7 linked regions of the Homo sapiens genome follow. The protein of the gene in region 3 interacts with the protein of the main gene of each other region in a pairwise test. Each region holds a gene or a part of one and is shown on either strand. Other genes may lie near its edges. The genes, in order: GLE1, DR1, FAM9A, INTS12, HIP1, LMNA and SDCBP.

What was found.
Region 1: the proteins of FAM9A (region 3) and GLE1 interact in binary tests that used the Homo sapiens proteins (3 or more experiments, as listed by UniProt).
Region 2: the proteins of FAM9A (region 3) and DR1 interact in binary tests that used the Homo sapiens proteins (3 or more experiments, as listed by UniProt).
Region 4: the proteins of FAM9A (region 3) and INTS12 interact in binary tests that used the Homo sapiens proteins (3 or more experiments, as listed by UniProt).
Region 5: the proteins of FAM9A (region 3) and HIP1 interact in binary tests that used the Homo sapiens proteins (3 or more experiments, as listed by UniProt).
Region 6: the proteins of FAM9A (region 3) and LMNA interact in binary tests that used the Homo sapiens proteins (3 or more experiments, as listed by UniProt).
Region 7: the proteins of FAM9A (region 3) and SDCBP interact in binary tests that used the Homo sapiens proteins (3 or more experiments, as listed by UniProt).

What each region holds. Positions count from the first base shown.
Region 1 is NC_000009.12:128,539,219-128,542,718, reverse strand, and holds the end of GLE1 (mRNA export factor GLE1), read right to left. Parts: intron 3,104-3,500; coding exon 3,021-3,103; coding exon of another isoform or gene 3,005-3,020; exon of another isoform or gene 2,842-3,004; intron 2,445-2,841; coding exon 2,381-2,444; intron 1,618-2,380; coding exon 1,549-1,617; 3' UTR 431-1,548; downstream 1-430. UniProt on the Homo sapiens protein: Required for the export of mRNAs containing poly(A) tails from the nucleus into the cytoplasm. May be involved in the terminal step of the mRNA transport through the nuclear pore complex (NPC).
Region 2 is NC_000001.11:93,352,407-93,355,906, forward strand, and holds part of DR1 (protein Dr1), read left to right. Parts: intron 1-1,501; coding exon 1,502-1,665; intron 1,666-3,500. UniProt on the Homo sapiens protein: The association of the DR1/DRAP1 heterodimer with TBP results in a functional repression of both activated and basal transcription of class II genes.
Region 3 is NC_000023.11:8,798,584-8,802,647, forward strand, and holds the start of FAM9A (protein FAM9A), read right to left. Parts: upstream 2,801-4,064; 5' UTR 2,728-2,800; exon of another isoform or gene 2,657-2,727; intron 1,627-2,656; 5' UTR 1,589-1,626; coding exon 1,498-1,588; intron 512-1,497; coding exon 383-511; intron 1-382.
Region 4 is NC_000004.12:105,682,127-105,684,689, forward strand, and holds the end of INTS12 (integrator complex subunit 12), read right to left. Parts: intron 1,192-2,563; coding exon 607-1,191; 3' UTR 501-606; downstream 1-500. UniProt on the Homo sapiens protein: Component of the integrator complex, a multiprotein complex that terminates RNA polymerase II (Pol II) transcription in the promoter-proximal region of genes.
Region 5 is NC_000007.14:75,553,942-75,557,441, forward strand, and holds part of HIP1 (huntingtin-interacting protein 1), read right to left. Parts: intron 2,871-3,500; coding exon 2,769-2,870; intron 2,229-2,768; coding exon 2,085-2,228; intron 1,611-2,084; coding exon 1,475-1,610; intron 586-1,474; coding exon 499-585; intron 280-498; coding exon 172-279; intron 1-171. UniProt on the Homo sapiens protein: Plays a role in clathrin-mediated endocytosis and trafficking. Involved in regulating AMPA receptor trafficking in the central nervous system in an NMDA-dependent manner. Regulates presynaptic nerve terminal activity.
Region 6 is NC_000001.11:156,135,211-156,138,710, reverse strand, and holds part of LMNA (lamin), read right to left. Parts: coding exon 3,399-3,500; intron 2,851-3,398; coding exon of another isoform or gene 2,811-2,850; coding exon 2,590-2,810; intron 2,498-2,589; coding exon 2,275-2,497; intron 1,791-2,274; coding exon 1,683-1,790; intron 1,599-1,682; coding exon 1,479-1,598; intron 1,058-1,478; coding exon 968-1,057; coding exon of another isoform or gene 947-967; exon of another isoform or gene 845-946; intron 224-844; coding exon 1-223.
Region 7 is NC_000008.11:58,573,761-58,577,260, reverse strand, and holds part of SDCBP (syntenin-1), read right to left. Parts: intron 1,362-3,500; coding exon 1,200-1,361; intron 1-1,199. UniProt on the Homo sapiens protein: Multifunctional adapter protein involved in diverse array of functions including trafficking of transmembrane proteins, neuro and immunomodulation, exosome biogenesis, and tumorigenesis.

The sequences.
Region 1 (3,500 bases), on a different chromosome or scaffold from region 3:
GGTTTTGCCATGTTGGCCAGGCTGGTAAGACGTGAGCCACCGCGCCTGGCCAAAAAAATTTGTTTTAGACATGGGGGTCTCACTATGTTGCCCAGGCTGGTCTTGAACTCCTGGACTTAAACAATCCTCCCACCTCAGCCTCCCAAAGTGTTGGGACTGCAGGCATGAGCCACTAAGCACGGCCTATTGTGTCTTTCAAAGATTTTAATACACTTTCACATCTCTTGCTAGATAAAATAGGGTCAGTTATTAGTACATAATTCCAAAAAAGGAAATGACAGAAAAAGAAGTAATATTCCCAAGGTGTAGGTCAAGAAGACCAAAAGGAATAAATGCATACCGCTCTATACCTGGACTTGTATACTATCATGATTTACATAGCTCAAGGCAGAGGAAATTGATCATATTGAACCAATATATCAGCAATGGGTTTTTCAAAAAACCAAGCTTTATTATTAATTTTTTTTGGCACCTTAATTAACAATTCATAGAATGGGTCACTTCAGGCCACTCAAGAGTACCAGTGAACACTCCCCCACAAACACACCCTGCCACAAGACATTTAGCACAGAGGAACAGATCCATGGCCACTGCCTCTGCAGTATCAAAGAGAATTAGTCTTTCCACAAAACAAATTTTAACAGCCAATCTCTGGATTTCTGTAGTGGCTTTAGTCAGGCATATTTATCATCATATTAGCAGTGTTCAGTTCCTGCCCAACATCTTTATTTAATCCCAATTCAATGCTTATGGATGCTCAGCTCATGTTTAATGTTGCAAGCCCCATCTTAGCCCATCTTAATTCAAACAGAAAAGAAACAAAACAAAACAAAAACAAAAAAGGTACCTGCCTGGTTCATGGATCCCTAGCCATCCAGGGACCAAATTCCAAATTAGGATGACAAAGAGTTTCCCTTAGTTCAAAATGACATGTGTTTCCAGTCCTAATCCCAGATGTTAATCTAGCCATAGTGTCACCTGAGCCTTAGTCCATGTGTATATCACATACTTCCTCTAGCTTTAGAATGACTTCACAAGCTGAGAAAGGCAAAACAACCATAACCCAGACTTGCATGTAAGTATCTGGCCTCAACTATTAAATAATACTTAAAAGGGAACCTTATGAGCCTTAGCTCTTTCTGGAAATTCATCTGAACAGGGGTGAGGGTGGGTAGGTGGGTGCAAATGGTGGGCTCCCTCCAGCTCAGAGTGCATTTGTTAAGGTATTGCCAACTTTCTGAAAGACACTAGAGACAAGGGAGGAGACCAAGTGCTAAAGACCTTTTATCACTTTTGCAAAAAACAAGAAAGGCCAACTCCATTTATTTTATCACGTGGATCTCTTAAGGAACTACCAAATCTACTAAGGGACCTCCAAGAATTTTGTGACCCATGAAAATCTCCTCTCCTAGTCACAAGGCATAAATACATAAAAATACATAATGGCAAATTTCTGAATCTGACATGACTTCTCCCAAATACAGCTGTCTTCAGTTCCTTTATTATTGCCTCTTTGCAGCAGCGGTGATGGTGGGTGATGGAGTGACATCAGGAGCGCCAGAAGGAGGAAGTCAGAAAGCCCTTGGGGACAGGAATGTCCTTGTGTTGCAAACATTTCTGGTCAGGGAAAGATGAAGAAAACAGAATGAGTTTCTGATAACAGTGTTCCCAACACTTAATGGTTAAAAGAAGCTTTGAGGAACACCATATTTCAGCCCTATGGAACAGTGAACAAAAAGGAAAAAGCCAGTAAGACTGATGGTTCTGTATAAGATGTCCACTTCTGCATGATCTGCTCCAGACAACAAATGAAATGCTCTTATTATTCCTGTCCCACTCTTGTCTCCCTACAGGCTAACCTCATCTTTCACAATCACTATTTTCACAATCGAGCTTTGAGAAGCTGAAAAGTCAGCAGGCTATCTTGGCAAACCCACTATAGTGTTCTAAATTCTTTGTCAAAATTAACCTTTTACAATCTCTTGGCACTTGGAAGTAGGGGAAGAGTCCAACTGAAAGTGCAGTTTGATCTCATGGAGAAAAGTGATGACACTTACCAATTCCCCAGACCTGAGACTAAGAAAATAACCTTGGCCAACATGCAAAAAAAATATATATTAATGAGAGGAGATACACTAAATATATTTTACTCATCTCAGCATAGCTTTCTCACAGGCAGTATAGAGAATGATACATATAAAGAAGAGGAAATGGCAGCCCTTACTCCAAAGGTTAAGAGGGAATTAGGAACAAAAAGAAGGGTTTGGAAGAACTAAGGAAGAGAGTGCAATCAGAGCATCGGAAGGTCCAAGACTTGTCAGACATAGGTGCATTCCAGCCCAACAACAGTGTGGGGCATGTTGGTCTAAGGGCATCTTACCTCCAAGAACTGCTTGAGGCGTATGAAGGAGCCCATCTGTCCTGAGCTTGTGATAGCTTCAATTCTACAGGGAGAGAAAGACACATGAATCACACCTATGATATACACCTATCTTTTGGAAACGGTGTCTCACTCTGTCACCTAGGCTGGAGTGCAGCGCGGTGGTGCGATCATAGCTCACCGAGGCCTTGAACTCTTGGGCTCAAGCGATCCTCCTGTCTCAGCTTCCCTAGTAGCTGGGACTATAGATGCATGCCATCATGCCTGGCTAATTTTTTTTTTGTAGAGATGGGGTCTTGCTATATTGCCCAGGCTGGTTTTGAACACCTGGGCTCAAGTGATCCTCCTCCTGTGGCCTCCCAAAGAGCTGCAATTATAGGCATAATTATAGGCATAAGCCACTGTGCTCAGCCCCTAATTTGTGTTTTTGTTTGGGCAATGATATTTAAGACAGACTCTCATTAAGGTTCAAAAGCATTTATTCAAATATCAACGAGAGGGACTGGAGTAGGAAAGATGTCATACTTAGTACAGGTGTTTTTAACTTGAATCAAAACCAGCAGGTAATAGCACCCTTGGGTATCTGAGGCCTGGTTATGAGTTACTTAATCCCCTGCTGTCTGCTCAACAAGCCTGATACCTGGGAAAGTAGTCCTCTTTGATGAGAATTAGCATCTTCCAGAACTGAACCTGGTATTGCTTCATGAGGGCATTCCCACACACCTAGAGGGAAAGACAGGCACTGTCAGAGCAGAAAATGAAAATTCACACTCACAGGACAGATTCATAAAGCACAATCAGCCCTTCATCTTTCACACCTATCAAAAATTTCAACCACAATGCCACTGAACTTGCTAACAAGGGAATAAATGGAAACACCCAACTTTCTTCTAAAGCATTTCTCTTTATATGGCAATATCTCCATTTAACCAATCAGGTCTTAATGAACTACTCTTCTTTTCCTCTAATGAATGGACGCCTTCCTAAAGGTATGGTATACCTCCCAAACTTAGTAAGGAGAGTATACAGAATACCACTTGTGTTCTCAAATGATACAGGATCATTGTTCATGTATGGTGACTTCAGGAGCTTTTTATTTTTTTTTGAAATAGGGTCTCAC
Region 2 (3,500 bases), on a different chromosome or scaffold from region 3:
CCTTTCTGAAGTTTTTAGGGAGGTCAGGGGAAGTGAGTTAACTTAATAATAGGACAGTACTATGCTTTTTGGCATCAGATTATTTCTAAAGAAGGTTGATGAAAACAGCTTAACATTTGAAATACTTAAAGTTGTAAATCATTCAAAATGTCTAAAAACCACAGTTTGCATGGGCATGTAGATTTGTAAAGGTGTTTTTGGCATTCTCCCAGAAGAGCAAATCCCTGAAGTTAGAAGTGAGAGCATGTATACTAAAAGGAGTCTGGTTCAACATAATGATTGAAAGACTTCAAGAACTGATGACTTAAATTGATTTACTGTTTTTTGCCACCTATGTTTCATCATTGGTTCACAATACAAAATATGCCTTTGGGGCATTAGTCAATATACCAAAACTATAAAATATAATTTTAAATACTATGACCCAAAAGGAAATTTTATGCCTTGTCTTTTCTGGATTACAGAAGGTATTTAGGGTGTGTGAATTTTTTTTTTTTTTTTTTTTTGAAACAGGGTCTTGCTCTGTCATCCAGGCTGGAGTACAGTAACGCAGTCATGGCTCGTGACATCCTCAATCTCCTGGACTTAAGCAATCCTCTCACCTCAGCCTCCTGAGTAGCTAGAACCATAGGCACGACCCATCACACTCGACTAATTTTTTTACTTTTTGTAGAGACGAGGTCTTGCCATGTTGCCCGCGGTGGTCTTGAACTCCTGGACTAAAGGGATCCTCCCACCTTGGCCTCCCAAAGTACTGGAATTACAGGCATGAACTACCATGCCTAGCCCATTTTTTTTTCCTTATAAAATTTCCTTTCTAAATACGAAAAGGGGAGAAACATTTTTATTAGTGCTTCTTGTATCTTTATAGTCTTTCAGCTACGTTTTTTTTGCCACATCATTTAAATATGTTTTTATTTTTCCTGTTAAGTTTTATTTTCAAGAGAAACCTGTTGGCTGACTATAAGTGCTGAATTTCATGACTTTTATTTCCACCAGTATTTTTTAAACTTGGCAGTTTGAGTATCTGCTAAAAATAGCTTCCTGTTGGTATATTGGACAAAAGAAAAACTTCTGTTCTTTTATTCTGTCCTACCAGAACTTAGTAGAGAATGTGTTACCAGCCTACTTTTTCTAAGTCAAATGACACAAAATGTTTTTTCTTACTAAAACCATATGTTCTTATAATGGGCTTTTTTTTCTTCCCTGCTTACAGGAAATGCTTTGGTCTTTTAAAAATTAGTCAGAATGAAAAGTGAAGGCATGTGCCTTGGTTCTTCAAGTTTTAACTGATTTGCCACCTAATATTTAGCAGATTGATAAAATATTTGTCTTGGCTGCCCAGACAGTTGTTGTACAACTATAAAATAGGTAAAATTATTAGAAAACAGCAAAACATTCCCCTCCCCCAAAGAAAAGCCCACAAAAACTTTAGGTCTACGGGTTGGGGGAAAGCTGTGTTTTATCACCCTTTCATATTTTAATATTTTCATTTCTCTAGCACTAGAAAGTTTGGGATTTGGCTCTTACATCAGTGAAGTAAAAGAAGTCTTGCAAGAGTGTAAAACAGTAGCATTAAAAAGAAGAAAGGCCAGTTCTCGTTTGGAAAACCTTGGCATTCCTGAAGAAGAGTTATTGAGACAGCAACAAGAATTATTTGCAAAAGTAAGTAATTTATTTAAATTATTTTCCTCTGAATCCTACCCTGTTTGCTAACTGAAATTGCTTCCTAAATTAACAGACATACCCAGAGGATTCCCTTTTTCTAGGTAGTTGATTATAGATTCTGGTGTTCAGAGCTGACCAATTTGACTCTGGTTTATGTGAAAGTAAATATTTGCAGCAATCTGTTCTAAAGAGAACAACTCCAAATACCTATTGAAATTTCACTTGATATTTTTTCAGACAGAATGACCATTTTAAGGCATGAAAAGTATACCTAAATATTCTTAAGATTTAAAATGATGAGCTGATGAGAAAATACTATATCAAATTTTATGATGCATGACATACCAGCAAAATCTGATTAATATCAACTGTGTAGTTAAATTAGGTCTTTAATATACACCTTTGAAGCATTTTAATCTTAAAAAATATTTTAAAGCTAGTAGAGCAAAGGGAGAAAATGTCTTCTTCCTTGCTTGTAATAATTCTAATATCTAGACTCTGAAGGATTAGAACCAAATACTAATGTTCTCTGTTTCAAAAAGAGAAGGGAGGGGAATTGGTGGCAATGCTGTGTTTTCCCTTCTAAGTTCTGGCCTCTCATTTGAAATTATAAGGCAGCTTTGGATTGAATAGAAGAGAAGCCGTAGTAACCATTAGAACTGGGAAGTATCATTTTAGGTAAACTCTTCCAGGTTAGTCCTGTAGCTGATCTCTCTGCAGCCATAACAATCAGTTTGGTTTACATCAAACTGCATTTTAGTCTTAAGTATTGTTGGTCACTAGACACCAAGTACCATTTAAACAAGATAAAAAGAAAAACTTACATTTATTGAGTTCTAACCACGTGTTAATCACATTGCCAAGTAATTTTCCTGCATTATCTCATTTAATCCTCCCAACAACCTATCATAGGCACTAAAGAGGAAAAGCCTTTGAAGCAGGCGTTAGTACATGCAATGTTATAATTCATATGAATATGAGGTACAAAAGAAGAGGTGTTGATGTTTTAAAAACATTAATGGCTATTTATTGATATTGCAGACCACCTAGAGAATGCTAAATTGAACATTTAGTGACAGAAGATTTTCTCCTGGATACTTTAAATACATAAAAACTTGGCAGAGTTTTTATGAAATATAAATTTTATTGTATTCATTTACATATTAAAAAATAGACTCAGAGGCGGAAAAACTTCCTTGAAATTGTTTGTCATTTGTTCTACAGTTACTTACTGAAGTCATTACTATTTACCAAGCATCATGCTAGGTGCTAGGCTTACAAGAGTGAACAAGGAGACAGGGTTCCTGTCATTATAGAGCTTAATCTACTGGGGAAGATTGAGTGGGAAAGATTGACTTAAATAAAACAGTAAGTTCAGAAAGTTAGGAAGTGTTGGAGTCTATATTTAAACTTAGGTATTTTGACCCAAAAGCCTGTACTGTTTCTAACATACCATGCTGATGCTCTAGCCTCCATTTTATATGCTTAAACTTATTATGGGGCTTTTAAATAGAATATGTATTATCCTTGCCAGGGCAAAATATAAAGAAATAATTGACTGCCTGCTATATCTGTCTTCACCTTTCTATCCCTATTATCTGTTTTTTTATTCCTCTTTTTTGTCTCCCTTGTTTCTTACCCTGACTTATGTATGAAGATCTCTAGTATTTCTTTACTATTGTGAGGATGACCAGCGGAGAGGTAATATTATAGCAGTTGCCTAGTACTTCTTCCCTAGAGCACTGAAGTTCTAAATATGAAAGAGTGGATAAGTAAATATATCTTTTTTATCACTTTCATTTTGTTTCATTTTTTAGACTTTAAATATTAAC
Region 3 (4,064 bases):
ATTAAAGCTTTAAAGCAGAGCTATGCATGGAATCACTGGGCTCCGGACCGTTTTACCGAGGCATTTTTGGAAGCCCTTCCGGTTCAAGTCCTAGTAAACAACGCTCACAAGTCAGACCCCTTGGATGTCAGGACCGCATCCATGGAGAAGAGCTGCTCTGCGAGCATCTGTAACCCTGCTATGAGGGGGAGCCTCCCACGGGAAGCCTAAGGCCCTCGATCCTGCTTTGAAAACCTGGGGCCTCTTGGCACATGCACAATGGACTCCAAAGCCACGAAGGGGCCAGGGGTCTCGGGCTGCCCATGTGCCTCCCGCGCAAAGAGCAGACAGACCGTCCTCTTGGGCGTGCACCTTCTTTTCTGGCCCCTTGGGCTGTGTTTACCTGTGTGCTTCTTCGCCGGGGCGGCCCTAACTTGAGCTTCCAACTGAGCTTTGGCAGCCTTCCTGCTGCGCTTCCTGCCCACGGGCTCCATGGTTGGCTGTCCTGGGAAGTTAGAGGCGATCCCTGAACCTGGTTGAGTGCAAAGTCAAACTAAGTAAGCTAAGGAAACAGGATATGTGAAAGGAGAGCCAACGGGATCTCGGATTCAAGAAAGGGTGGGGCTGGCCCACCCCGTGTATCCTGTGGGAGCAGGAGGGGATGGAGAAGATGCCAGTGTCCCCTCCTATCCTTCCTGGCCCGTCCAGCCCCTCCCTGGGGCTGGCTGCAGAACTCACAGCTGCCTCGCACACCTGAATGGCCCCTGCAGGATCCTTGCGGTGTCCCTGGGACAGAGCTCAGCCCTGCCCCTGTGTGCCCCAGAGACCTGCGTGGCCCGGAGGACCACGGGTGCCACAGGACCTCCCCAGCCATCTCTGGGAGAATGTCAGGGGCTGCACTGCCACTTGCCTGCCTGGATGCCCAGGTGACCCCTCGTGACCCCAGGTGTCCTGTCCTGACCGGCGGCCGGGCTGGAGGGACCCACTCGAACTGTCCCCCACAACACCCCTGCTTGTCGCCTCCCCACACACTCCGCCCCTCCTCCTCCCCTTCCCCCATCCCCTCACCCCACGAACCCCACACCCCTCCCCTCCCCTGCCCCCATCCCTGGCCCCACACCCGGCCCCTGCCTATCTGCCACTCCCCCGACCCTCCCCCCTCTGCCACCACCCCTCCCTTGCTCCCCTCTCCACCACCTCCATTCCCCCAAGCCCCCCTCCCCTGCCCCACCCCTCCCCACTGCACACATCCACAAGTCCCCGGGACAATCCCGGGCCCTGGGGATCACTCAGGTGTCTCCAGCTCCCTCCCTGCCCTGGCCCATCCCAGCCCACCCTCAGGGCCTCGCCCTGACCCAGGCCCCAGGCAACGATGCCAGGGCCATTTCCTGCTTTGAAAACCTGGGGCCTCTTAGCACGTGCATGGTGGACTCCAAAGCCACAAAGGGGCCAGGGGTCTCGGGCTGCCCATGTGCCCCCCGCGCAGAGAGCAAACAGACCATCTCCTTGGGCGTGCACCTTCTTTCGTGGCCCCCTGGGCGGCCGTAACTTGAGCTTCCAACTGAGCTTTGGCAGCCTTCCTGCTGCGCTTCCTGCCCACGGGCTCCATGGTTGGCTGTCCTGGGAAGTTAGAGGCGATCCCTGAACCTGGTTGAGTGCAAAGTCAAACTAAGTAAGCTAAGGAAACAGGATATGTGAAAGGAGAGCCAACGGGATCTCGGATTCAAGAAAGGGTGGGGCTGGCCCACCCCGTGTATCCTGTGGGAGCAGGAGGGGTCGGAGAAGATGCCAGTGTCCCCTCCTATCCTTCGTGGCCCGTCCAGCCCGTCCCTGGGGCTGGCTGCAGAACTCACAGCTGCCTCGCACACCTGAATGGCCCCTGCAGGATCCTTGCGGTGTCCCTGGGACAGAGTTCAGCCCTGCCCCTGTGTGCCCCAGAGACCTGCGTGGCCCGGAGGACCACGGGTGTCACAGGACCTCCCCAGCCATCTCTGGGGGAATGTCAGGGGCTGCACTGCCACTTGCCTGCCTGGATGCCCAGGTGACCCCTCGTGACCCCAAGTGTCCTGTCCTGACGGGCGGCCGGGCTGGAGGGACCCACTCGAACTGTCCCCCACAACACCCCTGCTTGTCGCCTCCCCACACACTCCGCCCCTCCTCCTCCCCTTCCCCCATCCCCTCACCCCACGAACCCCACACCCCTCCCCTCCCCTGCCCCCATCCCTGGCCCCACACCCGGCCCCTGCCTGTCTGCCACTTCCCCGACCCTCCACCCTCTGCCACCACCCCTCCCTTGCTCCCCTCTCCACCCCCTCCATTCCCCCAAGCCCCCCTCCCCTGCCCCACCCCTACCCACTGCACACATGCACAAGTCCCGGGGACACTCCTGGGCCCTGGGGATCACTCAGGTGTCTCCAGCTCCCTCCCTGCCCTGGCCCATCCCAGCCCACCCTCAGGGCCTCGCCCTGACCCAGGCCCCAGGCAACGATGCCAGGGCCATTTCCTGCTTTGAAAACCTGGGGCCTCTTAGCACGTGCATGGTGGACTCCAAAGCCAAGAAGGGGCCAGGGGTCTCGGGCTGCCCGTGTGCAGGTCAGCCGGCCGCTCAGCGCTTCACACCCTGGTTGCGAGAGGGCAGCATGCTCGACTTCCTGCCTCCCTACCGCGAGCGCTTCACCTGCGCTTCACACCCTGGTTGCGAGAGGGCCGCATGCTCGACTTCCTGCCTCCCCACCGCGAGCGCTTCACCTGAGGGACCCCTGATGCCGCTTCCTCACAGAACCTGCAGGCACTGGCACCACGACGCTCTCTTAGAAAAATGGGTCCTCAGTTCTCGCGAGAGCAGCTGCCCTGGCTATCCACGCTCCTCTCTGATTGGTCAGCTAAGTGCGCATGCGCATGCGGGTGAAGGACCTTGGGGGCCACGACCCCTGCTGACACGCCTTCCCTCTTTCCGTAAGGGACCACCCATATTTGCTGTGGACTGGGGTGGGTGGTGGTTCTTTGGGGCCTCTGTCCCCAGAAGTTTTCAGCGCCTCCTCCTGGGGAGGGATGCAAGGACTCGGGATGGAAGCCAAGTGGACGGGGCCTAGGACCTCGCCCCCGAGCTCCTTCCAGCCACCCCTGCCCCTTTGGCTAGAATGGCCTTCGCCTTGCAGGTGGAGCCCAGGCTCCCTCCCATGCCCTGTGTGTTTCCACCATGTCCAGCTGCACCCTTTTTATCAATGGATTGTGCTTTTATGTTTTTTGCTTGCTTGTTTGTTTGTTTTGGAGACGGAGTCTCTCTCTGTCGCCCAGGCTGGAGTGCAGTGGCAAGATCTTGGCTCACTGCAACCTCCACCTCTCGGGTTCAAGCGATTCTCCCACCTCAGCCTCCCAAGGAGCTGGGATTACAGGTGCGTGCCACCATTCTCGGCTAATTTTTGTATTTTTAGTAGAGACGGGGTTTCGTCATGTTGGCCAGGCTGGTCTCGAAGTCCTGACATCAAAGTGATCCACCTGCCTCAGCCTCCCAAAGTGCTGGGATTACAGGCATGAGCCACTGAGCCCATACCCAAAGTCGTGTCTTTAAAGGCATCAACTGTATGATGTATAGTTGTTTCCAAGAAATGATGACTAAAAGGTACTGATTGAGAAACTTTTGTCATTTCTTTCTTCAAAAAAAGTCAACTAGTTTCCTGCTAGTTCTTGCCACTTAAGTTAGCCATAGAAATCCCAGGAGTGACCATCAGGTTGTCAAAGGCCTTTCTTCTTGTTGCTGTAAGGTTGACCTGCTGATAGTAACAGATACACCCCACTCTCGGTTATTTCAGGATCAAGTAGATCCATTGGCCATGGAGTGATGGTCTTTTCAAGTCAGGCTATTTTGAGAGGTAATAAAATATTCGTGTACTTTAATTTATTTCCTTTTGTACTTGCTTGTTTTAAAATACAGTTCTGCACATAAATATTTTTGACAAGATGAACAATATAGATCTATTTTGTCACATTACAAAACAAACAAATTATTAAGATAAGTCAACAATGACTGTAAGTAGAACATTGTATTTCGTTATTAATTTTCATTAGATTTCCAAAACATTTTT
Region 4 (2,563 bases), on a different chromosome or scaffold from region 3:
TTTATTGGAAAAAGATATACCCTTAAATAATTGAAATGAGGTGATAAAAAAGGTAAAGATATAATATGAAGTATGATAAATCAATTAGGAAAATCCATTGATATGAGAAATCAATAATGAAAAAATAATTTTGAAAAAGATGAAATAATTGGGAGGGAGAGGGAGAGTCAGTTGAAATGGGGCTAGCACAGAAAATGAACACCCAGAATACGGGGAGGAAAATAGAAAACTATGTTGGGTCGTCCCTGCCGCCACATAAGGCACCTCATTCATCAGGATCAACTCTTGGGGCTTTGCTAGAAGATGAACTATTTCTTTTTCCTTAAATTCACAGATGCTTTCAATCTTCTGAAGATCTCATTGAGAACCAGTCATTCTAATCATTGTTTTCACACACTATGGAAATCATTAGAATAAAAATGTTGAAGATTGATTTAAAATGAAAGTTTCCAAGTTTTGTTATATAATATTTAGCATTTTAAGGTAAGAAACAATAGAAATTTGATTATGAAGACTTTTATTAAATTACAGTGTATTACAGATTATATCATAATAATAAGCCTTTCATCTTTAGGCTAATATGATACAAAAACCTACTTGGCCACATTACTTCTTGAGTTTCTTTTGGGCAGCTTTCTTCTTGACCATCTGTAATCGCTTCATAGCATTGAGCTGTGATTCTTGTGAAGTTGGGCCTTTAAGGGATGCTGAGGGAGAGCTGCTGGATTCTGAAGTAGTTTTGCTGGTAGTACTTCCACTAGGTCCTGATGTTCCACTATTTCCATTCCCACTTAGTTGGCTGCTGCTTCCTGGAACTAAACTACTTGGACTAGGAAGACCTACTTTGCTGACATTGTCACAACTAACTGAGCGACTAAGGCCAGTTTTACCCAAGGTTAGAGGTGGAGGTGGTTTTAAAGGTACAGTGGGCGTAGTGCTGTTATTGGAACCTATTTTGGAACCTATTCCACCTTTGGATGATGTTGCCAGACCAGTCAAACCCACAGGTTTCTGGTTAGCTGACGAAGTAGCAGGTTTCCCAGTATTGTTTTGTGTTGTTGAACTCAATTTTGCTGTTGAAGGACCAGCAGAGGAAGTTTTGGCTGCAAAAGCTGCCCATCCAGTTAAGCCACTAGTTACTGACGAGGAAACGCTGGCACTAGAAGAATTTCCTGAAATAACTGTGGATGTCTAAAAAAATAAAGTAAATAATTACATTAGAGCCAAGTTTAATCAGTACCTGTATAAACATCCCAAGTTATGAATTGGGAAATTTAAATCACACCACCAAATTAGGTTCTTATGAAGCTGATCTGAAAAACCACACAGAACAAAACTTATCTGTATCTAGTGGGTATTATCATTTGCAAAGCAGAAAATTTTTGATACCATATTCTTGTTCTAATGATTCCAAAAGAAAATATATGAAATTCCTTTTTGGGAATTGCTTTTAGATTCAATTCTAAGCTATATCTGAAAACCAGATTTAGTGCTTTAACATAGTTTTTACCCAACAAAGTATTATCGACCTTAGTTAAACATCTAATTCTTTTAGACTTTTCTCCAAATAACTAGGGATCATTTCAAAAATTTAATTCACTCTTAATAGCAAAAATGCCCATACCCAGAATATTCAGGAGAACATATCCAAGATGAAGAGATTCAGTCAATATTTATTTACTGAGTGACTGTGTGAGAGAAAGAAGACAGCTGTATAGATTCTAAACCCATTAAAAAAAAATGTCCTCCTAAATTTTGAGCAACAGTTACAGGAGTACAAAATATATGCAAAGTTAATTACTTGGAAGTGTACAATTTTTATGATGTGTTAAAAAGTTCTCATGATTTTAGTTTCACAATTTGCCCATGATTCCGGTTAAACTATCATGTAAGAGTCTCCTGCTCCTTTAATAAGGATTTTATCAATTGCCTCATTAGGCTGCACAGTGACATTTTGGGTAGGACTGATCTCATTCTCTGATATATTTCATAAGGGTATAACACTTCAACTTCTCTGATTAACTTTCCTGGCTAATCAGAAGCTCACAATGGTACCAATGCCACTATATAAATACATATTGCTCTTGTTCACACAAGAATATATTTTTTCACTTTCATATTAGGCACAAATGTACGTATTCAAATTAATTTTGAATTGAACTTCTTATTGACACCTTTTCTACCTTTATACTCTTAAGAAGATTCACAAAAGCATTACATTCACATATAGGTAAAAGATAAAATTTTACAAAATAACATCCTACTTAAAAAATGGTAGTTATTATACCTAAAATATATCCAGTTATAATTTAGAACTTTACTCTGAAATAGTTGATAAAACATTTTTAGCTCTTGAAATCAAGGTAGCCTTCAATATTGTCTGCATGCATACATTTTTAATCAATGTGAAAAGTAACAAAAATAGAGTTCTGAGATATTCGATTTATAAGAGAAGGAATCCAGATATTTGTCCACATACTCTGAAAATTGATAGGAAGTTTTCTTACAGTAACATATTAACTATCTTATGAAGTTATCCAGAGAAGAAAAACTACATAAACCA
Region 5 (3,500 bases), on a different chromosome or scaffold from region 3:
GCCATGTTGGCCAGGCTGTTCTTGAACTCCCGACCTCAAGTGATCTGCCCGCCTCAGCCTCCCAAAGTGCTGGAGTTACAGGCATGAGCCACTGCGCCCGGCCCAACAGAGACTTTTAAAGGCCCCCTGCTCCCCTGGTCCATGAACAGCCCCTCATGCCCCGGTACTCACAGTCGGCAGGCTCAGGTGGGGCTCTGAGGCAGGTGGTGGCACCATGAGCAATGGCGTCGCTGGTCAAGTGGGCCAGCAGGGTTATGGAATGGAGAAGTCCACTGATGTCTGCCAGGATTGGAAAGAGAAGTTTCTCAGGTCTGGTTGATGGTGACACTTTCATACCCTCTCCTCCCGTTTTATGAGTTGCCTACATGCCTTTCTTGTATGAGTTGCCTACATGCCTTTCTTGATGCAGAGGGACCTGTCACTATCCCCGCATTCAGGTGCTTCTGAACCCTGTCTGGCCATCACTAGCCGACAGAGACTGTCCTTGGCCATTCTTACCTTCTGGGCAGGCCAGATACTGGCTCCAGCTTTTCTCCAGTTGCTCGATGCAGCTGGAAATGGATGTGACCGTGGAGAGGAGGTGATCTGTGAGAGGGAACACAGGGCAAGGTCAGAGCAAGTTCTCATAGCTGGCTTCATCCTCGTTAATTAAGCACTGAATGGAGGAGCTTACCTAGTGGGTAAGCTTCCTGCCTAGACGTGAAGTTCATGAGTAATCACCTCTTGATTCAGACCATAGTTTTTTCCTTAGAGAAACAGAATTGTCTGCTCCTGGTGGGTGTTTTATCAGTGTGACCCACTGTCTAAAGCAGTAGCTATCACACCTGGGGGCTTTAGAAAATACTACTGCTGGGCCTGGCGTGGTGTCTCATGCCTGTAATTCCAGCACTTTGAGAGGCCAAGGTGGGAGTTCAGAAGTTTGGGACCATCCTGGGCAATAGAGTGAGACCTCGTCTCTACCAAAAATTAAAAAATTAGCCAAGGCCAGGCATGGTGGCTCATGCCTGTAATCCCAGCACTTTGGGAGGCCAAGGTGGGTGGATAGCCTGAGCCCAGGTCTTCAAGACCAGTCTGAGCAACAAACCGAAACCAAAAATTAGCTGGGCGTGGTGTTGCGTGCCTGTAGTCCCAGCTACTTGGGAGAATGAGTGGGGAGGATTGTGTGAGCCCAGGAAGCGGAGGTTGCAGTGAGCCACGGCACTGCACTCTAGCCTGAGCAACAGAGTAAGACCCTATCTCAAAAAGCGGGGGGGCGGGGGGGGGGAAGAAAATACTAAAATACTAGTGTATAGGCACTAATGCACAGAGTTTCCACATGTAACTGATCTAGGATGGGGCCTGGGCGCCCCTAAGGTAATGCTGACATGCTGCTGGGCTGAGAGCCCCTGAGCTAAGTCTCACATGAGATTCAACATCAACAGAGTCTCAGGCTGTAAGGACCTGGCCCCTGCCAGCTGGGCAATTGCAAGTGTACCTGCAGACCCAGCGCAGCTGATGAGAGGAGGTTCTTCAAGCTGGTTCAGGGCGTCTTGTATCACCTGCTCCGCAGCCTTCCTGGACCCCACCAGAAGCATTTTTCGTTGGTCTTTGGCAAGCTGGCACATAGATTCCTAAAAATGGTCCAGGGAGGTGAGAGTCTGCCCTAGACTCCATAATGAACCTGAGCAGGATGACCTGGCTGGGGCTCTTAGCATCTTAGCTCAAGTCATGGCCAATGAGGTCCAAGCCAGTAAGCCTGAGACAGAGAAAGGCGCTTTAACTGTGTGCACAGGATGTGCGGCTGCCCACGATGTGCGGCTGCCCACAGAGGCTGTGGGGATGGATCACTGCGCCCGCTTCTCATGGCTGGGAGGAGATGCCAAACTTCTCTTCTCATACAAAAAAGACAGCAGTTTGCTTTCCCTCATGGACTCTGCAGGCAATGCAGGGCCTGCTGGCATTACACCTACAGAATGTCTGCACAATCAGGCCAAGGCCCCAAACCCCTTCTCAGCAGCCCCGGGGTCCTCCCAGCCTCCGTGCATGCGCAGAGGCCCTCGGTGGGAATTCACAGGTGCTCGCTCGTGTCCATGTCCGTGACTTGCCTCTGTGCTGGCCAGTTTGAGCTGAGTGTCCTGCAGTTCTTTCCGAAGAGCAGATAATTCCTCCTCCCTATGAGCTGCGCCACTCACCAGGCTGTCCCGCTCCTTCTCTAGCTCGGCGAACTCGGCTGCCCAGTTTGCTTCTGACTGCAAAGGTGACCACAAGGAAAGAGGGAGACGCTGGTTGAGTTAAACAGTCCCTACTTCCCAGAGGTCCAACCCACCACCGGGTTGCAAGGACTGGGAAGGTGATGGCTCTTTAACCTGCCACTCTGATTCCCTCCCGGGGACACACTGATTGCAGTGGGGGCTGACTTGGCCAGGCCAAGGATGGTGGATGACAGCAACGCCAAAGCCAGGGGTGGGGCAAGAAAGGAGGCCGGGCATGAAGGCTCATGTCTGTAATCCCAGCACTTTAGGAGGCTGAGGTGGGAGGATCACTTGAGCCCTGGAGTTCGAGACCAGCCTGGGCAACATAGTGAAACCCCGTCTCTACCAAAGAAAATACAAAAACTAGCCAGGTGTAGGGGTGTGTGCCTGTAGTCCCAGTTACTCGGGGGGCTAAGTGGGGAGGATCACCTGAGCCCAGGGAGGTGGAGGCTGCAGTGAGCTGCGATCGCACCACTGCATTCCAACCTGAGTGACAGAAGAAGACTCTATCTCCAAAAAAAAAAAGGAGGTATTTACCTGGGCAGAAGTTTCCAGGCTGCCTTGCAGAACCTGAAGCTCCCGTTGGCTTGTGGCAAGTTCCTGCTTCAAGCTCTCTAGAACTTCCAGCTGTTCTTGAGTCTGAAAGAGAAGAAAAACAGAGGGACTCTGATCTGGGTGACAGTGACAAAGAATATAAAAATGTAAAAACGTCCCAAGCGATCAACAAGAGATCTGTAAACTCTACTGTATGTAAGTTACACCCCCCCAAAAAAGTGCAGGGTGTGGGAGGAGGAGGCAAGACCCCAGAGTGTACTGAAAATGTGGAATGTCAAGGAAGGATTTTTTATTATTTATTTATTTATTTATTTATTTATTTATTTTTGAGACGGAGTCTCGCTGTTGTTGCCCAGGCTGGAGTGCAGTGGTGCAGTCTCAGCTCACTGCAACCTCCACCTCCAAGGTTCAAGAGATTCTTGTGCCTCAGCCTCCCAAGCAGCTGGGACTACGGGCACACGCCATCACACCTGGCTAACTTTTGTATTTTTAGTAGAGATGGGGTTTCACCATATTGGCCAGGCTGGTCTCGAACTCCTGACTTGGTGATCCACACCCCCCTCAGCCTCCCAAAGTCCTGGGATTACTGCCGTCTCAAAAAACAAACAAACAAAACAAACAAACAAAAAAAAACGCTCATCCCTCTCTCTCTGCCACCCATGTGTTTTCCTTTCCTCAAACTCTCCACCAGCCTCATCCTTGGAAAGCCTTTGT
Region 6 (3,500 bases), on a different chromosome or scaffold from region 3:
GATTGTCCCCGAAGCTGCCACCCCCACTGCCCCCCACACTGCGGTAGCTGCGAGTGACCGTGACACTGGAGGCAGAAGAGCCAGAGGAGATGGGTCCGCCCACCTGGGCTCCTGAGCCGCTGGCAGATGCCTTGTCGGCAGGCTGCCCGCAGGTCCCGCACAGCACGGTGCGCGAGCGCAGGTTGTACTCAGCGGGGTCCCCCGAGCTGCTGCAGTGGGAGCCCTGGGAAGGGAGACAAGGCTCAGGCGGGACGGCGAGTCTGGGACTGACCACTCAGGCCCAACCAGGCTCCAGGCTCCTGCAGGCTCCCAGCCGCCAGGCAGGAAGGTGTGGTTCTGTGCCCAAGGAGCCAGCGGGCAATGGGGGTTTGGGAGGCTAGGGGCCCGGAGGAGGAGAGGGAAGACATAAAAGGGGAGAAGGCTCAGGAAGACTTGGGGACAGAGAACCAGAGCAGTGACTCTGACTCTGTTCTAGCTACTCTGAGCTTAAGAGGAAAAGAAGAGAGAACGGGAGCAAGCTTGTAGGGCAGCAGGCATGCACTATTAATTGGAGTGGAGGGGCGGTCAGGAATGAGAGAGAACATTCTTGCAGGAAAAATGAGGGAAATGAGAGGATATGCATGCAACAAGAATGGGGGAGAGAGGCAGGGCGGGCATGCCCCACGTCTGTCCTCCCCTCCCTTTCCCAGAAGACAAATCCAGACCCTTGTCCACTGCTCCCACAGGAATATTCCATGGCATCAGAAAGTTCCCACTCCCTTCCTTACCAGAGTAGGGCACCCAGACACCTGGGTTCCCTGTTCAAGGTATAGGGAGGAGAGAGAAGAAAGGCCAGGCCAGCGAGTAAAGTTCCAAAACATTCTTTAATGAAAAGATTTTTGGCACGGGGAGGCTGGGGAGAGGCTGCCCCCAGGCCTGGCTGGGTGGCCCCAGTGCAGGCTCGGCCTCAGCGGCGGCTACCACTCACGTGGTGGTGATGGAGCAGGTCATCTCCATCCTCATCCTCGTCGTCCTCAACCACAGTCACTGAGCGCACCAGCTTGCGCATGGCCACTTCCTGGTGGGGACATGGAACCAGGTCCAAGGGTCAGGGCCAGGGAAGGGTTGTACAGCATGTCTACCCCAGTGACCACCTGCAACTTTTCTTGTGGCCTGCCCTTTGTCCGGCCTGCTGCTTACTCTGTCCTCTGTGGTGATGGAGCTAAGGAACTCATTTCCACCCCAGAGGGACACTGTCAAGCTCTCCGGGTAGGAGTATGGCTCTGCCTTTAACAATCCTCACTGTCTAACTTCCACCCCTTGTGCTGTTGAGGAAGCATCTTTTGGTTTGCCTACTGGGTGGAGAAGTCTGGAGCCTGCAACAGAGAGCTCTAGAAAGGGGCCCTGAATTGGCAAACTTGGGTTGGGGGCAGCTGGCTCCGATGTTGGCCATCAGGGGGAGCCTCGTCCAGCAAGCAGCCAGGCCCAGGCCTACTTACTTCCCCAGTGGAGTTGATGAGAGCCGTACGCAGGCTGTTCCCGCAGCCCCAGGTGTTCTGTGCCTTCCACACCAGGTCGGTAGGGGGGCTGTGGGTGGCCCCAGCTCCTGCAGCCCAGATCTGGAGAGGAGAAAAGGACACTTACCCCAGCGCTCCCATCGCCACCCAAGGCCTCCCCAGAGTCCCAAGCGCCCTGCCACTCACCGTCACCACCTGCCCAGCCTTCAGGGTGAACTTTGGTGGGAACCGGTAAGTCAGCAAGGGATCATCTCCATTCTGGCGCTTGATCTGCCAATTGCCCATGGACTGGTCCTGCCGGGAAGATAGGGAAGAGGAAGGTCGGGGAGGCTCACCCAGGCTCTTGGGTGTATCTTGCTCAAAGGCCCAGCCCTCTGCCTGCCTGCAATTGAGGCCTCTCCTTCCATCTACACACACCCCTGTCACTGCCCTTCCCCCGGGGATAATAGCCATGATCTGTGGACACATACGCAGCACCAGGCACACGGATACCTTATCTTTCATCTTCCTGACAACTCAAAGACTTAGGGATCAGTATTCATCCCCATTTTACAGATGAGGAAACTGATGCTCTGAGAGGTTAAATAACCTGCTCAAGGTCTCACAGCCAAAGAGTCCAGGAGCCAGGCCTGGAACCAGAGTGTGGAGGAGATATACAGGCTCACCCTGGTCCACCCTCTGAGGGCAAGGATGTTCCTCTCTCCACATGCCATCCTTCTGTCTTGCCACTCTCTCCCTGATGCAGCTGTATCCCCTTAGACCCTGAGCAGGAGCCTACCTCATTGGACTTGTTGCGCAGCCGGACAAACTTGCCCTCCTCATCCACCTCCTCCACGGCCACGCGCCCGCTAGTGCGTGCGTGCTGTGAGAAGCTGCTGCGGCTCTCAGTGGACTCCAGTTTGCGCTTTTTGGTGACGCTGCCCCCACCCTGTGTCTGGGATGAGTGAGAGGAAGCACGGCCACGGCTGCGCTGCGAGGTAGGGCTGGGGGACAGGCGTAGCCTGGGGAGAGGGAGACCAAGTGGGGGTCTAGTCAAGGCCAGTTGCCGGCCAGAGGACACTGCCAGCACCTCCCCGACGTCTCCCCAGCCCACCTCTCCTCCTCGCCCTCCAAGAGCTTGCGGTAGGCGTGGATCTCCATGTCCAGGGCCAGCTTGATGTCCAGAAGCTCCTGGTACTCGTCCAGCTGCTGCTGCATCCTTGCCCGCATCTCGGCCATCTCCCGCTCCTTTTCCGCCAGCAGCCGCCGGCTGGTGTCCCGCTCACGGGCCAGTGAGTCCTCCAGGTCTCGAAGCTTCGCCTCCTTGGCTGCCAGCTGAAGGGGGGTGGGAGGGTTTGGTGAGCTCCCAAGGGCCCTAAGTATGGGGAAGGAGGGACGTGGGTCGGTGTAGGAGACACCTGGCTACTCTCTCCAGGATCTGCAATCAGAGCTTCCCCAGAGCCCTCATCAGAGCCAGCTCTGAACATCACAAGCTCTAAACATAGTCTTGGCTGGCAACTGGGAAGTCCTTCCCCTTGTCTAACTGAAACCTCTCGTTCTGAGGCTAGACTTTTTCTCCTGTCACAAATAGCACAGCCAACTAGAAAAATACTGATGCTTTTAACACCTCACATTGCAGAGTCCTGTGGCAACTCTGAGTTAGGGAGATTAAGAACAGCCTCCATTTTCGAATGGGAAAACCAAAGCCCTGAGAAGTGAAGGTGAGGTAAGAGTGTACAGAAACAGCACACAGGCCATCTGACTCCACATCCTGCGACCCTTCTCTGTGGTTGTGGGGACACTTTTCATCCCTCTCCTCCTCAGGAACCTCCCACCCCCACCCCCACCCCCAACCCTGGGCTTCCAGCCTGCATCCGGCCCAGACTCTAGGCCCCTGGAGAGAGGGGTGAGGTGGGGTATCACCTGCTTCTGGAGCTGGCTGAGCTGGGCAGAGAGGCTGTCGATGCGGATGCGCGACTGCTGCAGCTCCTCGTGGGCAGCCCCCACCAGGTTGCTGTTCCTCTC
Region 7 (3,500 bases), on a different chromosome or scaffold from region 3:
TAGGTCACATATTTCTATCACACATCTGTTACATTGTAGAATGATAAGCAAGAACTAGGTAGCACCCCATAAATGAACAAATGCCCTTTGGCCAAGTGAACAAATCCACTGCAACTATTACCTACAGTGGGGCCAAGGGGCCTATGAAAAGTATCTTTTCTCTTTAGGACAGAGGAAAGAACACAAGAGCAATCCTGGCGGAAGGAGCAGCAGTATACTCTATTCCCTGAAGATTCTGGAGAAAGGGCAGCAAAGTCAGAGCATCCCAACTAAGCACGCAGATGTATTTTGAGTGACATACAAGTGAGCAAGGCCATCATCGATGGCCTCAGCCCCCTGGGTGGGCAGGCAGGGCGGGGGCCTCCTGCCAAGATCAGCCTCCTCCATTTACAGCAGTGCACCACACTTATAATTTTCTATGTGGAAAGGCTGGATGCACTAAGCTAGAGATGTATGACTGAAACCGAATCCAATAAGGTAATGGCTAAAACTATAAATTGGGGTAAAGACTCAACATGTCCTTCACAATTATAAATGGTTCCTCAGAGAGTAACCCTGTTTCATATCTTCAGTATGTTAAGGTGAGAGGTAATTATAAAGTAAAGGCTGCCCTAATTAGAAAGAATATTCCATCTTTTTTTACTCAGAAAATGACATATTAAATTCAAATGTGAAGGATGTTAATAACAAATCTGCAAAAACCATCTCACCAGTTAAATACTGATCATTTGGTTTAAAAATGCACACACATCCGGGAGGCAGAGGTTGCAGTGAGTCAAGATCACACCACTGCACTGCAGCCTGGCGACAGAACGAGACTCCGTCTCAAAAAAAAAAAAAAAAAGGCACACTGACATTGACTCTCATTGGAAAGTTTTTTCTTAACCTTCACATCTGCTCTATTTAATTGCCACAATTCTATTATACAAACTATAATATATGTAGGCCAGTGAAATGTATTCCAGTTAGAATATTCAGAAAAGAAACATCTTTCAAAGTAATGTGGTCAGAAGTCCCAACTATGCCTCTGCAAAATAGAACATCCCCAATTGAAAACATTTAAGTTAGTAGATTTAAAATATTCTCAACTACAGATGCACTATTATAATTAAAGCATTTCCATTTCAAATTATTTTAACATTAATCACTTATTATGTAAGAGATTTAGACAAATTCAAATAGGTATTTAAAATACTTACATTATCTATTGATTTAAGCCTGAGTCCAATTTTTCCATCTTGATCCTTACACAAAATGACTTCACGAATCCCTTGCTTAATTTCTGCTCTACGAATTCCAACATCATTACCAGTTACAGGAGCCACCATATAGTTTATACTGGAAGGTCTTGCTACCAACTGCTGACAAAACCATATACAATGTGTCAATATCTAGAAACACTCTCCTTGAAAAAAACAATGATAATTAACTGGAACTTACTCAGTTTTGGCTTTCCAAAAAGCAATCCACAAATAATTTCCTTCCGATAAAGTTTGATGTCTATGAAAATGGCACTGGCTCTACTACTAATTCTTCACTAACTTATTCCCACACATATCATCTCTAATAGATTCAATGACTCTCTGTTGCCCTTTGAATTCACTGGCATTTGTTTCACCGGTATACTGGCTTGTCTTCATCTCAAATTTATTATCTTTGAACTTAAAGGCCATATACTTTTGAAACATTTTCCAGACGGTTCATGATGTCACGATCTTTGACAATCTACTTATCCTTTCAGAATTTCCATAAAAGGGGCAAATTTCTTACCTCACTGTTACTGACAGGATTAAATGAAAAGTGCATGTTGTATGGGCACTGGCACACATAAGACAGTCAACTATTATGTCTCTTCCCCTCTAGTAACCATCTATGGATTAACAAATCATATGCACAAACCAGAATGCCCCAGAATACCTACATTAGGGACCTGTGTCATATACCATGTTTCAAGTTTCTAATTCTTTCCAGTTTTCCTAATCAAAACTGGTTTATTTTAAGTGGAACCTTTCCCCAACCAAAAAGAAAATGGAATAATATTAGGCCACTAAAAAAAGGAAATCCTGCCATTTGGACAACATGAATAAATGTAGAGAATATTATTCCAAGTGAAATAAACCAGACACAGAAAGACAAGTACTGTCTGGGTCCCACTTATATGTGGAATCTGAAAAGAGTCAAACTCACAGAAATAGAGAGTAGAAGGAAGGTTGTCAGGGGCTGGGGTTGGGCAGGGCAAAGAATGAGAAAAATGTTGGTCAAAGTGTACAAACTTTCTCAGTTATCATATGAGTACGTTCTGGAGATCTAATGTACAGCATAGTAACTATAATTAATAATACTGTACGGTATACTTGAAAGTTGCTAAGAGTACATCTTAAGTGTTCTCACCACACACCAAAAGAAATGTAACCATGTGAGATGACAGATACGTTAATAACCCTGACTGTGGTAATCATTTCACAATGTGTGTTTGTGTGTGTTTATCAATACATCAAGTTGTATTGATATATACAGTTGAATATATACAATTTATATTTGTTAATTATACCTCAATAAAGCTGGGGAGAGGAAGATCCAGATGGAACATCAAGAGAAGAAGAATAAAATATGTGAAATGAAAAATTCACTAGATATGAAGAGATAACAGAAATCTCCAGCAACAAATTAATTTAAAATAGAACAGAAGAAAAATAAAAGGCGGCGCACTGAAGAACCCTGGAGATGCAGACACAAAAATGAAGGTTATATCACCCTTCTAGGTATTTGGGCAAAGGGATCTAAGCATCCATGTAGTGAACAAAGGAAGTTCTAAATTTTAACTACAGCCTCATGATCAGTTACTAAAATAAGAATCAGAGCAGCTATGACTCTGTTCTTCTTTGTATTTGTATATTTTCTGTAAATACAGCAATTAATCTTTCTGTTCCTCTATACCTCTTTTTACCTTTATGTATGAATTGTTGGTAGTGGTTAACTTTACACTTTTGCCTTTAAATTAAAAATATTCTGTTGGGAATGTGAATACTTAGAAGGGTAATTAGTATCATATAGTAATCAATACCATGATGACTGCCCAGAGATGGCCACATTAACTGGTATCATCCCTTTCTAGAGAAAGGGTGAGAGCAACTTCATTTATATTGAAGGGTACATGGCTTCATTTTGTACACCCCTGAGTTAAAAATGATTTTTATATTTTTAAAGATTGTAAATAAACAAATAACAATAAGAATATGTGATAAAGATCATAAGTGACCATGAAAGCCTAAGGTATTTATTATGGAGCCCTTTATAAAGTTTGAACTTTGATTTTATGAAGAAATTCATCTTTCAAGGAGAAACTATAAAGTTGTTGTTGTTGTCACATGAAATTCAAATGTTTGTACAAGTGTGTGGATATACTGAGTAGTCAAAGGAGTAGGTGGTAACAGATATTAAACTACTGTTTGTCAGCTCCAAATCCACCCTTCTAGACTCTACTTGGTGATGCTGGGCCT